Linked DNA regions of Homo sapiens: regions 2 and 3 are each linked to region 1. Evidence: fine-mapped expression QTL. A gene starts in region 1. Each other region holds a variant in brackets. All regions are shown on one strand. Distances are from middle to middle.

Region 1 (4,295 bases):
GTAATCCCACCTACTTGGCAGGCTGAGGCAGGAGAATCGCTTGAACCCGGGAGGCAGAGGTTGCAGTGAGCCAAGATTGAACCACTGCACTCCAGCCTTGGGAACAGAGTGAGACTCCGTCTCAAAAAAAAAAAAAAAAGAAATTTAGAAAAAATAAAGATGTGATTTACTTTTCCCATCCATGTTTATGCATGCATTTGCGGACCCCAGGTAAGAGCCCCTGGTTTAAGTGGAAATTAAAGTAATATGCCTGAGTTAACATGCTGTAGTTTGAGGGGATCACTATTCATCTTTTCACTATTTATCTTTTCTTCCCCACCTGATTTTAGGACAAACTGAGAGTAAAAGATGCAGGAATAAAACACAGAAATCAAAATAAAGGGTTTACTGCTGAAAAATCCGCTTGAACAAGCCTGTTAATGTGATCTTCCTGAATGAAGCCAGCTTACCCCTAGGCCTCCACTGTCCCTCAGGAAAGAGAACACGAAAACTGGAACTCTCTGCAGAAAGGAGGATCCCAAAGAAGGGGCCAAGCTGTACATTTATCAATCAGGAAAGCCACTCCACCCTCCATGGCAGCCCCTACAATTTGAAACAAGTATTCTTCCTAACATAACACATTAATTCATGAGTTTATCAGTTCATTTCATTTTTACTTTGAGATTTTTGTGAATAACCATAGAAAAATCTATTTCACCTGGCAATAAATAGGAAAAGGCACAGCATAATGTTTAAATACAGAGAATATTGTTACATGTAAGATGTTGATTGAATGTTCTAAATACAATTTGAAAACTGCGTGAGAGGAGGAAAACGTATATTCAGAAGGACTTAGGTGAATCCAGATGAATATTTTCATGACAGGATGTTGGCTATTGATATGAAGAAAGTAGAGGAATAGACTTGCTAAAAGTTAGAGGAGTCTAGTTTATCTTCCAAGAAGCTTTGCAACCCTGTAATACTGTAGAAATCACAAATTTGGCAATAATTTTAAGATAATTTATGTTCATTTTTTATGGAATGCCATGTTTATCTTTTTATATATGACATTTTCTGGTCAGTAGTAATATATATATCCTTTATTAAAATTGGAAAATAAATACAAACATTTTATTTATTTATTGGTTAAAAAATTATTATGCTCATTCTTTTTTTTTTTAACCAGTAAGGATCTGGATAAAGAAAAACATTTTAGAAAACCACTTGTAGAGTACCATGAACCAGTCTCTCTTCTCCATTTTAAAAAATTTATTGACTCACTTTTTTTCCATAACTTTTTGAGATATTATTTCAACCACTTTGCATTTAGAGAAAAAGAGTCAGAGAGTGATTAAGAAATCTGCCCAATGCTATACTGATAGAAGCTGGGAGAACTGGGATTTGAGCTTACATAGGCTAGTTCTAGCATTTGTGAAGTTCTCGCCTAATAAAAATTATCTGTAATCATAACCAGAGCAAGTCATTTCTAACCTCCTGTCTATAGACACGCGGATACATTTGTAATGTTTTTGTTTGTTTGTTTTTAGCACGACAGATCAATTCCTGCTGGCATTATAGTTCTTTAACTATCATAGCTTCTCTGATTTTTCAACACATCTGTCATCCGTATTCTGCAGGCATAGCCAACTCTGTCAGTGTCTCCTCAGGCAATCAGAATCAACAGACAGAATGTAGGACAGAAAACTGGCTGCAAACATGTTGGAAGGGCTGGAGGAGCGAAAGAGGGAAGATCTGTTACCTAGAGATAGTAACTTCCAGAAGTTACCACTATACTAGTGCAGGAGAAGCAGAAAGGAAGATGCTGCTACCCAGAGCCCACAGTCATTGTGCCCCTGATGCCGCTGGAACCCCACTGCAGCTGCTTTACAGGAAGCAGGGAATTAGCGCTCTTGCTGATGCTACAGGTATCCAGGATCCAAAAGTCATCAGCCGCTGTCCCTGTTGCAGCCTAGGGAAACTGTCCCACTGAGGTTGTTGGGGTACCTGCTACTGCATCTACTGTCTGAACCATGTTGCCTGAGCAGATGTCCAGGGCTCAGGCTTGCCTGCTGCTGTTACTGCTGCCACCATGTTTATCAGAGCTACTTCAAGAAGAGAAGAAATCCTCCTCATTTCCAGTTTTTTCCAGTGCCTCCCATTGCTTCCCAGAATGCCAAATTCTCTTTGAGAGACAGCTGAAAGGAAGGTTTGGAAAAGACTCTGGTGTAAGCAGATTCTGCTTCCCTGCAATAGGGGGAAAGCATAGGGTGGAACTGGAGCTGAGAGCTAATCACGAATGAGCAAATCAGTCTTCAAGACATTTACCTTTCCTTGAAACGTTTCCCTTCTTTTACCGTGTTTTCCATGTCATTATTTTTCCACAATTCTGCATCATATTCTGTTAACTATTAATGCCCTGGATAAGTTTATTTGCTCTTTCTTAGGGTTAATTTTTCTCCTTTTCTTCGAAGCTTTAGTTTGCAGGTTCAGCTTGTGTGGGAATTTTCATCTCCCTCCTCTTCAAGACTCCTTGGATATCAGTTTTTTGGTTGCCTTCACCAACTCTCCCCCCACCATCTCTAGACCAGGGCATGGTCTTAGTTGGTGGCTTGGACTCCTGTGGCTTGGAGTCTTTGGGGATATTAGAGATCCAGTCACTGAGCTGGCAAAGGGAACACTGTCCTTGCTTCCAGCTTTATGAAGAACGCTTTGCTCTGTCACCCCACGTGAGTCCAACTCTTGGCTGCCTACACTGCCTGAGGCTTCAGTTCTGGCATCGTGCTGCATGTGATCTATTATCCTGCTTTTGAATATGCCTATGACTTTTCTTTATATATTTTTAAAAATGTTATTATTGGTATGTTTACAGTGAAGGGAAGAATGTGAAGCATGAACTCAAGAGTCACAGTAATGATAAATTTTAATGATTGTAATTGTCCTATCTGTCATAATACATTTATTTTGTTGATTTGTTTGGATTTTCTAGGTAAATAATCATGTTATTCAAGGATAATGAATGCAGCCACCATGTAATCATCACTGACTCCATGGCAAGTACACTCTGCCTTGTGCTTTATATACTTGTCAGGACTCAGAAATGGGCAAAGAGGATCACTGGTGTCTTTCAGTGGAGTGCTGGGCATTATAGTGGAGTCCTGGATTATCTGATTCCAAGAATTCACACCTTGACTTTCTATTGACTAGGTTATTTTGCAGCTCTGCAGAGGTAGCTGTTAAATTGTTGAAAACTGCTGACAATGCAGCAAATTCTTATTCATACCAAAGCAAACAAATTTTGACTGGTTGATTATAAAGCTCTATAAGTCAAATTCTCATTTGAACAGATCTTACTATATTAGTGGTTCCCTCAGTAATTAAAGAGTTGAAATAAAATCTTTGACATATGTTTCTTTTATAACTGTAGAAGGGTCATAATTTTACTTTTTTGAAAATTATCCTTTAGCATACATAGTATCTTTTAGTCTTCACAACCTGAGAGGTAAGTATCACTCCCATTTAATAGATGAGAAAACCGAGACTCAGATCAAATGCTTGCCTGCTCAATGTCAGATTAACTACTAAGTGGTCAAGCTGGGATTTGAATGCCAAATTTTGCTCTCTTCAAGCTCTGCTTTCAAGATCTGTGGTCTTACATATTTTTGCTTCCTGGAGAAACCCCATTTACTCACAAATAAAATGATGAAAAAATATGAACTTTGATAAAACAATATTAATAATGACTAATATTTATTAAGTGTTTACTGTAAGCCAAACACCAAACTAAACTTATTTGGATTAATTCATGTAAGTAACAATGAGAGAAGTGAGTTTAAAGAGGTTCAATAACATGCTCAAGGCTTTACATGCTATTTCTAACTTTTTCTCTTCTTTCTCCAAATGCCTAGTTTTCCACATTAGCTGCACGCTAGAATCATCTAGAGAGAGCTCCTTAAAAATATTAGGGTATCAGCATATCTTAAAAGATTCCTAGGTGATTCTAATATGGAGAATCACCACATAATAGAGAGGACTTTTCCTGCTTCCCTAGCTGATACTTAAGAGAACTGGACAAATCTGCAATATTTGTTTTGGTTTTTCTGCTGTAGCTTGGAAAAGGAGTAATGGGGCTGAAATCTGTACTATCCTGAAGCTTGAGTGTCTAGATGTATGCAGGGCTTAGCTAAAAGCATTTGAAAAAGCATCTCAGCCAAAGGTCAAATCATAGCAGGAGCACAGCAATTTAGAGAAACCATCTGAGTGGTAAGAAAATGACTTTTACATGGACTCACTAAAAGATTTAGATATGCCTTAATAAG
Region 2 (4,295 bases), 140 kb before region 1:
TTCCCAGTAAGATCTCAGGAATTGGGCAGGTGGGCTCAAGCATGTGCACTAAGAGGCAAAATGGTGGAGTTTAACTGGTATATGACCTTCCTCTAGCAACACTCGACTGGTAAGGAAAAAAATGCCTAAAATGAACATGCACACAACTTTAGTAAACATACTGTGCATGCTCCCCTCCCAAGTGCTGGCAGGCCACTGCGAATGCAGACAGCCTGTCCCAAGAAAAGAAATCAAGGGAGGAGAGATGCAAACCCCGGAACCATGCCAATGTATAAAACCCTAAGTCAAAGGTCAAACAGGGCACTTGTATCTCTCAAGTTGCCCCCTTGGCCCTCTTTTTGTTCCTACTCTAAAGCTTTTTAATAAAATCTTACTCCCGCTCAAAAACTTGCCTGAGTCTCTCACTCTGCCTTATGCCCCTCGGTCAAATTCTTTCCTTCAAGGGGGCAAGAATTGAGTTGCCGCAGACCCATGTTGATTAACCGCTGCTAGCAGGGGCTGTCCTGTGCATTGTAGGATGTTTAGCATATTTTTATTTTAGATATTTTTATTTTATGTATTATTTTTGAGACAGGGTCTCACTCGGTCATCCTGGCTGAGTACAGTAGCACGAGCATAGCTCACTGCAGCTTTGACCTGCTAGGCTCAAGTGATTCTCCTGCCTCAGCATCCCATGTAGTTGGGACTCCAGGCATGTGCCACAACACCTGTCTAATTTTTTTGATTTTTTGTAGAGATGGGATCGCATTTTGTTGCCCTAGCAGGCCTCTAATTCCTGGGCTCAAGCAATCCTCCCACCTAGGCCTCCCAAAGTGCTAGGATTATAGGTGTGAGCCACCATACCTGTCCTCAATTCTCTATTTTTAATGGGTGCTAAAAGAGTTACAATATGTGTTCTTAATTTATCCCACTCTACTCTGAATTAATATTATACCACTTTATGTATAATTAGAGTACCCTTTGATATTATAATTCCATTTGTCACCTTTATGTTCATTCTGCGCTTATTATCTTATATCTTACTTCTTGTTATTAATACCACAATATATTGTTTTTATTTCTGTTATAGTTAATTGTTTTTTAAAGGAATTGGGTAAAGCAAACCAACAGCATAGATACTTACGTACCTATTTATAATCTCTTTATTTTCTTTCTTTTTTTTTTCAGATGGAATCTCACTCTGTCTCCCAGGCTAGAGTGCAGTGGTGCTATCTCAGCTCACTGCAACCTCCGCCTCCCAGGTTCAAGTGATTCTTCTACCTCAGCCTTCTGAGTAGCTGGGATTACAGGCACCCGCCACCATGCCCAGCTATTTTTGTATTTTTAGTAGAAACAGGTTTTCACCATGTTGGCCAGCCTGGTCTCGAACTCCTGACCTCAGGTGATCCACCCACCTAGGCCTCCCAAAGTGCCAGGATTATAGGCATGAGCCACCGTGCCCAGCCTATAATTTCTAAAAACCCTTCAATGCTATAGATCTATATTTCCATCAGGCATCATTTTCCTTCAGCCTAAAGAAATTTCTTTGGTATTTCTTGCTGGCAAAAATTAGCTTCTACTTATCTACATTTTGAAAGACATTTTTGCTTGAAATCATTCTATGTTGACAGATTTTCTTTTAGCACTTTAAAATGCTATTTTATTGTCTTGTGGCCTCAGTTGTTTCTGATGAGTAGTCAGTCATCATTCCTATGATATGCCTAGGTGTTTTCTTTGTATAGATCCTATTTTAGGCTCACTTGAACATCTGAGATCTGTGGATTGATAGTTTAAATCAAATTTGGGTTTTTT[TC/C]AGATTGAGAGGATGCAGGTTTGGGGACTTTCCTCTTTGTGGCTGCTTCTTTTTGGGATTCCCTTCCTCAATTTCCAACTAATCTGACCCCCAGATTGCTTACTTCTGACTTATCAATCTGGGATGATGGCTGCTTTCTGCTTGAGCTCTATCCAGATGTTCTGAGCAAACTAGGGAGATCCTTTGGGGAAAAATTTGGTTAAATGTGGATCCCACCTCTACTTATTCTCCCCTTTTAAGGGTCATATCTCCTTCAGTTTCTGCTTGCTTTTGTCAGGATCCATTGCTTAAAGAATTGTGTTCTACATTTTCTTCCAGAATTATAATTGTTATTTGTAAGAGGATTAGTTTGATATGAGCAGCTTCACCATCAGTGTCACATTAAGTTTTAAATGTAAGATATATCTAGGGGTTAACTCTTCTAAGAATAATTGCATTGTAATAAAAGATAAAGCATACACAAATTTTTTTGGTAGACTTTTTGCTATTAACATGCAAGTACAAACGTACTTTTGGGAAAGTCAATAGTGTCCACATAAACAGTGACCTGCTCAGTGCATAGGCTATATCAGCAGCTCTTAAAAATCTCCCATCCCCTACTTTTGTCTCTCTTCCATTGAGACAATTAATCTTCCTCTACTATTCCTAAAAGAAGAGGGCAAAAAATGGGGGAATGCTCTTTTCACTTTCCAGAACAAATTTCTATCCACTACATAACAATGACTATTCTGAAATTTAAAAATAATATCTGCCCATATTGCTTAATTCCATAGACTTCTCTTCCCTCTCTCAGATAACTGTCTATCTAACCCACAGTCTTCCTCCTCTTTCAATCTTGGGTCAAACTGTTAATGATGTCACATGTATTGACATCATGGTATTCCACTAGTGACCAGCGAGCACATCATAGTTTTTCATTCTTTTTGGCCAAATGCCCTATTGTTTCAATTTTTTTTATCAGGTATTTGGAATCAACAGGGTCTTTACTGTGACTCTGTTCTATTGACTGCTGGAATCTCTAAATCTGTGTTTTCCTACATTTACTACATCTTTCTTTTTGTTTAATATTTTCACTCCTTACAACCACTGAACACTGTTTACCCTACGCACTTCATGAGATCACTCTTTCTATACTGTTATATTTGTTTGTTACTTTAATATCATTAGAACCCCTTAATTTTGCCTCTTATACTCACTAATTTCTGGACTTAAGTCCATTTGTTCCATTCCTGTACCCACAAAATGGAAGACAAACAACAACAACATCAACAACAAAACCCACCAGGTTTCTTTAAAGCTAGATCTGCTGTCCTGCTAACTTATCATGAAACAGTTAAATATCTCTAGGTAGAAACCCTGGCATCTCCCACACCTTAAATAGGAGAAAAGGAGTAGTCTGAGAACCTGGCTCTACCTCTAATATAGCTTTGCCATTAACCAGTATAAAACTTTGAATTACTCACCCAACCCTCCATTTTCCTGTCTGTAAAATGAGGAAAATATTCGAGAACTTGAAACCCACTACAATCCGTCTCTGTGTTTCACTAGCCCAGTTTAAAACTGGAGAGAAGCAAATTCCATGCTAGCAAGTATAATAGCAATAGAGGGAGGAAGGATTGACTGCCAGCTAGGAATTGAGCTGCAAGTGTCTTGAAGCTTTCATCTGTGAAAATGTAGGCACTGTGAGACTTAGAAAGTAACAGGCCAGACACTGGATCAGTATAAACTGCAAGGAGGTGGCCTGGGTAGAGAGATTTGCTGGTTGTTTTTCTCCCCAGCACTGGTCTGAGTCTCTCACTTAGGGCTTCATGCTATCTCTTTCTTCCTGTCCCAATTCCCCACATTTCCCTCTCCACCACCCCAAAACATAATCTAATTTTTATTCTTAATTGGTCCTGGTTATAAAATTTAGATCTAGTCTACATTATTATATATATTCTTCAATAAAGTTTTAAACTCTTTAATTAAAAAGGCAAATGATTTTATTGTTCGATAATCTTTTAAAAAAATAAGAGGAAGGAGTAAAATTAAAGATGAAAGATGATTTTTATTTCCTTGTGACCTCTATATCCCCCTTCCCCTGCCCTTGGTAAGTAACTCTTGATGGAGAAAGGATTAAAGACTCTTATTTAACCAAAAAACAGAGCCAGCTAATCATTTCCAAAGGTTAGTATCTCCCTGCTGACCTCTTCTTTGGTTTAATTGAATAAAACTATATGTTCATATATGTATTAAAACAAACTCAGAATAACATCTTTTCTTCCTTAGTTAAGGCATTATAAGGGCTATAACTATCATCCATAATAACCAAGGCAATAACTTAGAAAGCTGCTTTGATGGGAGTAGAAACTTACAAACAAATAAATTCAATAGACCTTTGTCATAAAACCGGTATGAAGAGACAAAGGTAATACCCATATTGTTAAAGGTTACCTCTTACAGTGAAAAAAGATCTCTGAGCATTAGCAGTGAGATTTCATCTGTAATATATATAACAAAATAG
Region 3 (4,152 bases), 27 kb before region 1:
GTTACATTTTATGATTTATGAGTGGTAGTATTAGAGGTTTTTATGTAAAGATTTTTGAAACATAATTTATCTAACTGAAACTTTAAAATAGGATAGTTGTTACTATTCCTGTTTGCTGGATAATTCTTATTTATCTTTGGTTTAATTTCTTTTAAAATTAAATTGGTTGTTAGAATATTTTTCTCACACATAGACATGGAAGTCAGATTCATTCTTTGTGATGTTTGTAGCCACCATTCAAGTGAATTTGTAGTAAGTCTTGGTCAATATGATTTTAAATAATATATATAATTGTTTTATATTATGATATATAAATGTAAAATATTCTGAATTTTAATTTTTAATAATGGTGTAATTACATACTTTCTAAAGCTACTAAATGTCTCAATATACTACACTTAATATTGTTTCAAGTATATGCTGAGTTGCCATTATAATTTCTGTTAGGTTTTAAGTATACAATTTTAAATCATCGCTATTAAGTACCAACTGCTAATGACAGATGAAAACGTGGTCATGCATTATTTCTTTATAAAGAATAGATATTCAGGCTGTCTTCAATTTGTACTCTCTTTTATTCGTTTTATACTAATGATTATCTGATATTATTATTATTTTAGACATTCTAGAGCCCCTTAGTTAAATAAAAGATTAAAGGGGAACAGCTTATCCCACCCTTTCCATGGCCAACTCATGGGGATGATCAAAATAAGCACTCTTAACATCAAGAAGCTTTAAAATAAGGTCTTTAGTATTGGGATAAAGTTGTCCAAGTTGAAAAAGAACTTGTTTGCTATAATCTCCCACTGTGTGTGCCAAGGCAGGATACTCTAAAAGGGGATGACGTGGTTTACAAAGGATCAAGTAATAGTGACTCCTCTTGGACAATGACTTGAGAGCTGTTAATTCAGAGGAACACTCAGGTCTTAAAAGATCACTAAAAAAGGCAGGTTGTGAACTACACAGTTCCAGCCTATGAACAGAAATATCTCTTTAAGATGTTTTATGCTTTTTTTCTGATCAGAGATGGGGGCCTGGTCCCCTCTGATCCCCTCACTTTTAAGACTGTCATATCATTCACAGATGCTTACTTTCTAGTGATCCAGTTGGTTCGTAGTATTTTTCTTAAAATAGCAAAATACAGAGTGTCAGAACTGGCCACATTTTTTACCCAACAATTGCTAACAAGATTAGTGTCATTTTAAAAAAAATCTTAGTACTCATCATACTAAAAACATGCTTGACCCTTGCAGCCCTTTCTTTACCTCCTAATGCAAAGGGAGCCTTAAATGCCCACATGAAAGGAAAGCAAAGCTCTTGAGTTTTACTCACTAAACTGTAAGCTCCTTAAGGGCCGAAATGTATCTTAGTCATATAAATATCTGGGCACTCAGTTGATGTTTGTGGATAGATGGACAGATGTTGAAAGAGGCAGGTATTCGTACTCCTGTTTTAGATATGAAAAATGTAAGCAAAAAGGATTAATTACCATGGCTGTGGTATGAAACTTGTTTAAAGTTGGCATTTAAATTCAAGTCTGCAACATTAAAGTTCTGTGTACAGAGCCGTTTTCCCACTGTAGCAGCAGCGCAGCAGCAGCGCTGCTATGATTGATTAAGCACTTGCTATGTGCCAGAGTTAATAATTGTGATAATATATTAACTCATTTAATTTTCAGGAAACTAAGACATGGAAAGGTTAGGTAACTTGCCCAAGGTCGCACAGCTAGTAAGTGGCAGACATCCAGAGTCTCTGCTCTGCTCTTAACTCTCACCATACTACCTCTGTATCCATTTCATAAATAAAGATAGTAGTTTCTTATAACAGTAATGCATTTG[TC/C]TTACCCATGAATACCTCCTTTCTCATATTTTTAATTTTTTATTGTTACCAAAGTAATTTGTGCTTATGGCATTTAAAAATTGGTGCCTGCAGCTTTAGATAGACTGTGGAAGGAAAAGACTACCACAAAGTTCCTAAGGTTGGTATTTAGCTCCTAGTGACAACATGACAAAGGAAAGTTGCTGAATGCTAGAATTTAACAATCTCTGCTTAATACTGTTTCCATGTGAAGCATTAGGTACACACATTGTGTGTACCTAGGGCTTACCTGGTATGTGACCTAAATTCAATGTCAGCGAGGCCCTTGAGCCAGAAAGCCCATTTCCCCACAGTACTAAAAGATCTGCAGGATTTTCCCTTTATCTTTGATATTCAGGCCCTCAATACTTTCTAAGTTGTAAATGTTTTCTTCCATTATCTATGTTATTATTACTTCTCATGTTCCTTTCCTCCTCTTTCGTTGGCTCCTGGATCTGACCTCCATGCTTCTTGGTCTTTTCCCTCAGGTTATCTGCACTGGGTCTCTTATGAGGTATTTCCTCCAGCGATTTTTCTGACCACTAATGTTATTTTCAAAGTCAGTCATTCTCTTTTTCTGTTGGATATTGAACTTTTAATTAAGAAATCGTGGTAGTTTTTAATTTCTGAAAATCTTTTCTATTTTTAGTTCTATAATTCCATGATATTTTTCATTAAAATTATCTTCTGTCTCTTCCATTGGTTCTGCTTCAGTAGACATCTCTCTTATTTCTGTTGCACTGGTCATCTTTCTTCCCATGCCCCATAAATGAATTTAACTTTTCCTGGCCTACTCAAGCTATGGTTTCCTCAGCATCTGCCAGCACCCTGTTGTGCACATCTCTTGGGCAGTAGCAAATTAAGTGTTAAGAGATGCGGTGGCTTCATTTCTCATGGGCCTATGAGACCTCTTACCATCTGATAACTTTCTATGAGGAGCTGTTTTGCTCCCAGACCTTTTCAGTCTCAAGCAGCAGTTCTTTCCCAACTACAAAGATTGGAAAGCCCTTCACTAGAGAGCCCCTTCAAGGTTTTCTGAGGTCAGCAGGTCTGTTGCAGCAAACGGCAAATGAAGTCCTCTTAGAAAGTGAGTCACAGCAGGGTCTGTAGCTGGAAAAATATACAGCAATTTAAAGAATGAATTTGATCTATCTGCTGGCTTGCAGTTTATTCGTTATATTTAGGTGAAAAAAAGTCACAAAGTCATGTTTATTTTTGTAATTAAAAACCTCTCTGTATATAGGTTCACATATGTTGGTATGCACATGGAGAAAGGAATAGAAACCCACACACGTGATACGGTTTGGTTCTGTGTCCCCAACCAAATCTCATCTCAAATTGTAATCCCCACGTGTTGGGGGAGGGGCCTGGTGGGAGGTGATTGGATCATGGGGGTGCATTTCCCCCTTGCTGTTTTCTGGGTTCTCATGAGATTCAATGATTTAAAACTGTGTGGCAGTTCCCCCCGACTCTCTCAGTCCTCCTCCTGCTCTGCCATGGTAGGATGTGCTTCCTTCCCCTTTGCCTTCCACCATAATTGTAAGTTTCCTGAGGCATCCCAGTCATGCTTCCTGTTAAGCCTGTGGAACTGACTCAAACTCAAATCAGCAAGATAAAAATAATCCCATTAAAAAGTGGACAAAGGATATGAATAGACAAATTCTCAAAAGAAGATATGCAAGTGACCGACAAACATGAAAAAAATGCTCAATATCACTAATGGTCAGGGAAATGCAAATTAAAACCACAGTGAGATACCACCTTACTACTGCAAGAATGGTCTTAATAAAAAAATCAGAAAAGAATAGATGTTGGCATGGATGTAGTGAAAAGGGAACACTTCTACACTGCTGGTGGGAATGTAAACTAGTACAACCACTATGGAAAATAGGATGGAGAGTCCTTAAAGAACTAAAAGTAAAACTACCATTTGATCCAGCAATCCCACTACTGGGTATCTACCCAAAGGAAAAGAAGTCATTATGTGAAAAATAACTTGCATTTGCATGTTTATAGCAGCACAATTTGCAATTGCAAAAATATGGAACCAGCCTAAATGCCTGTCAACCAATGAGTGCATAAAGAAAATGTGGTACATATACATTGTGGAATACTACTCAGCCACAAAAAGGAAAAAAAATCACAGCATTCACAGCAACCTGGATGGAGTGGGAGACCATTATTCTAAGTGAAGTAACTCAGAAATGGAAAACCAAATATTATATGTTCTCATTCATAAGTGGGAGCTAAGCTATGAGGACACAAAGGCATAAGAATGATACAATGGGCCGGGCG

Which allele goes with the higher level. Alleles are on the strand shown, and positions count from the first base shown. SD is a standard deviation of normalised expression in the study named. Not every link is listed here.
In carriers of allele C in region 3, the expression in adrenal gland of the gene that starts at base 1,760 in region 1 tends to be higher than with TC alone (moderate effect, 0.49 SD a copy in GTEx).

The links. PIP is the estimated chance that this variant, and not a neighbour inherited with it, causes the effect. A credible set is the group of variants that fine-mapping cannot tell apart.
Region 2: its variant is the best candidate, but not a certain one, in a credible set for the expression of LINC02795 in whole blood (TOPMed, PIP 0.77).
Region 3: its variant is the best candidate, but not a certain one, in a credible set for the expression of LINC02795 in adrenal gland (GTEx, PIP 0.53).

The regions. Positions count from the first base shown.
Region 1 is chr1:86,317,066-86,321,360 of GRCh38, reverse strand. It overlaps LINC02795 (long intergenic non-protein coding RNA 2795), which reads left to right and starts at 1,760. Exons shown (of 4, transcript NR_187380.1): 1 at 1,760-2,705; 2 at 2,966-3,029. It overlaps LOC105378825 (a long non-coding RNA gene), which reads left to right. Exons shown (of 3, transcript XR_007066205.1): 3 at 330-1,057.
Region 2 is chr1:86,456,015-86,460,309 of GRCh38, reverse strand. It overlaps CLCA2 (chloride channel accessory 2), which reads right to left. Exons shown (of 14, transcript NM_006536.7): 14 at 3,757-4,295. Among named protein-coding and RNA genes, the nearest start is that of CLCA1, 11 kb to the left of the region's middle. The variant TC/C (reference allele first, on the strand shown) is at 1,792.
Region 3 is chr1:86,344,515-86,348,666 of GRCh38, reverse strand. It overlaps ODF2L (outer dense fiber of sperm tails 2 like), which reads left to right. Exons shown (of 17, transcript NM_001366781.1): 17 at 1-1,830. Among named protein-coding and RNA genes, the nearest start is that of MIR7856, 11 kb to the left of the region's middle. The variant TC/C (reference allele first, on the strand shown) is at 1,839.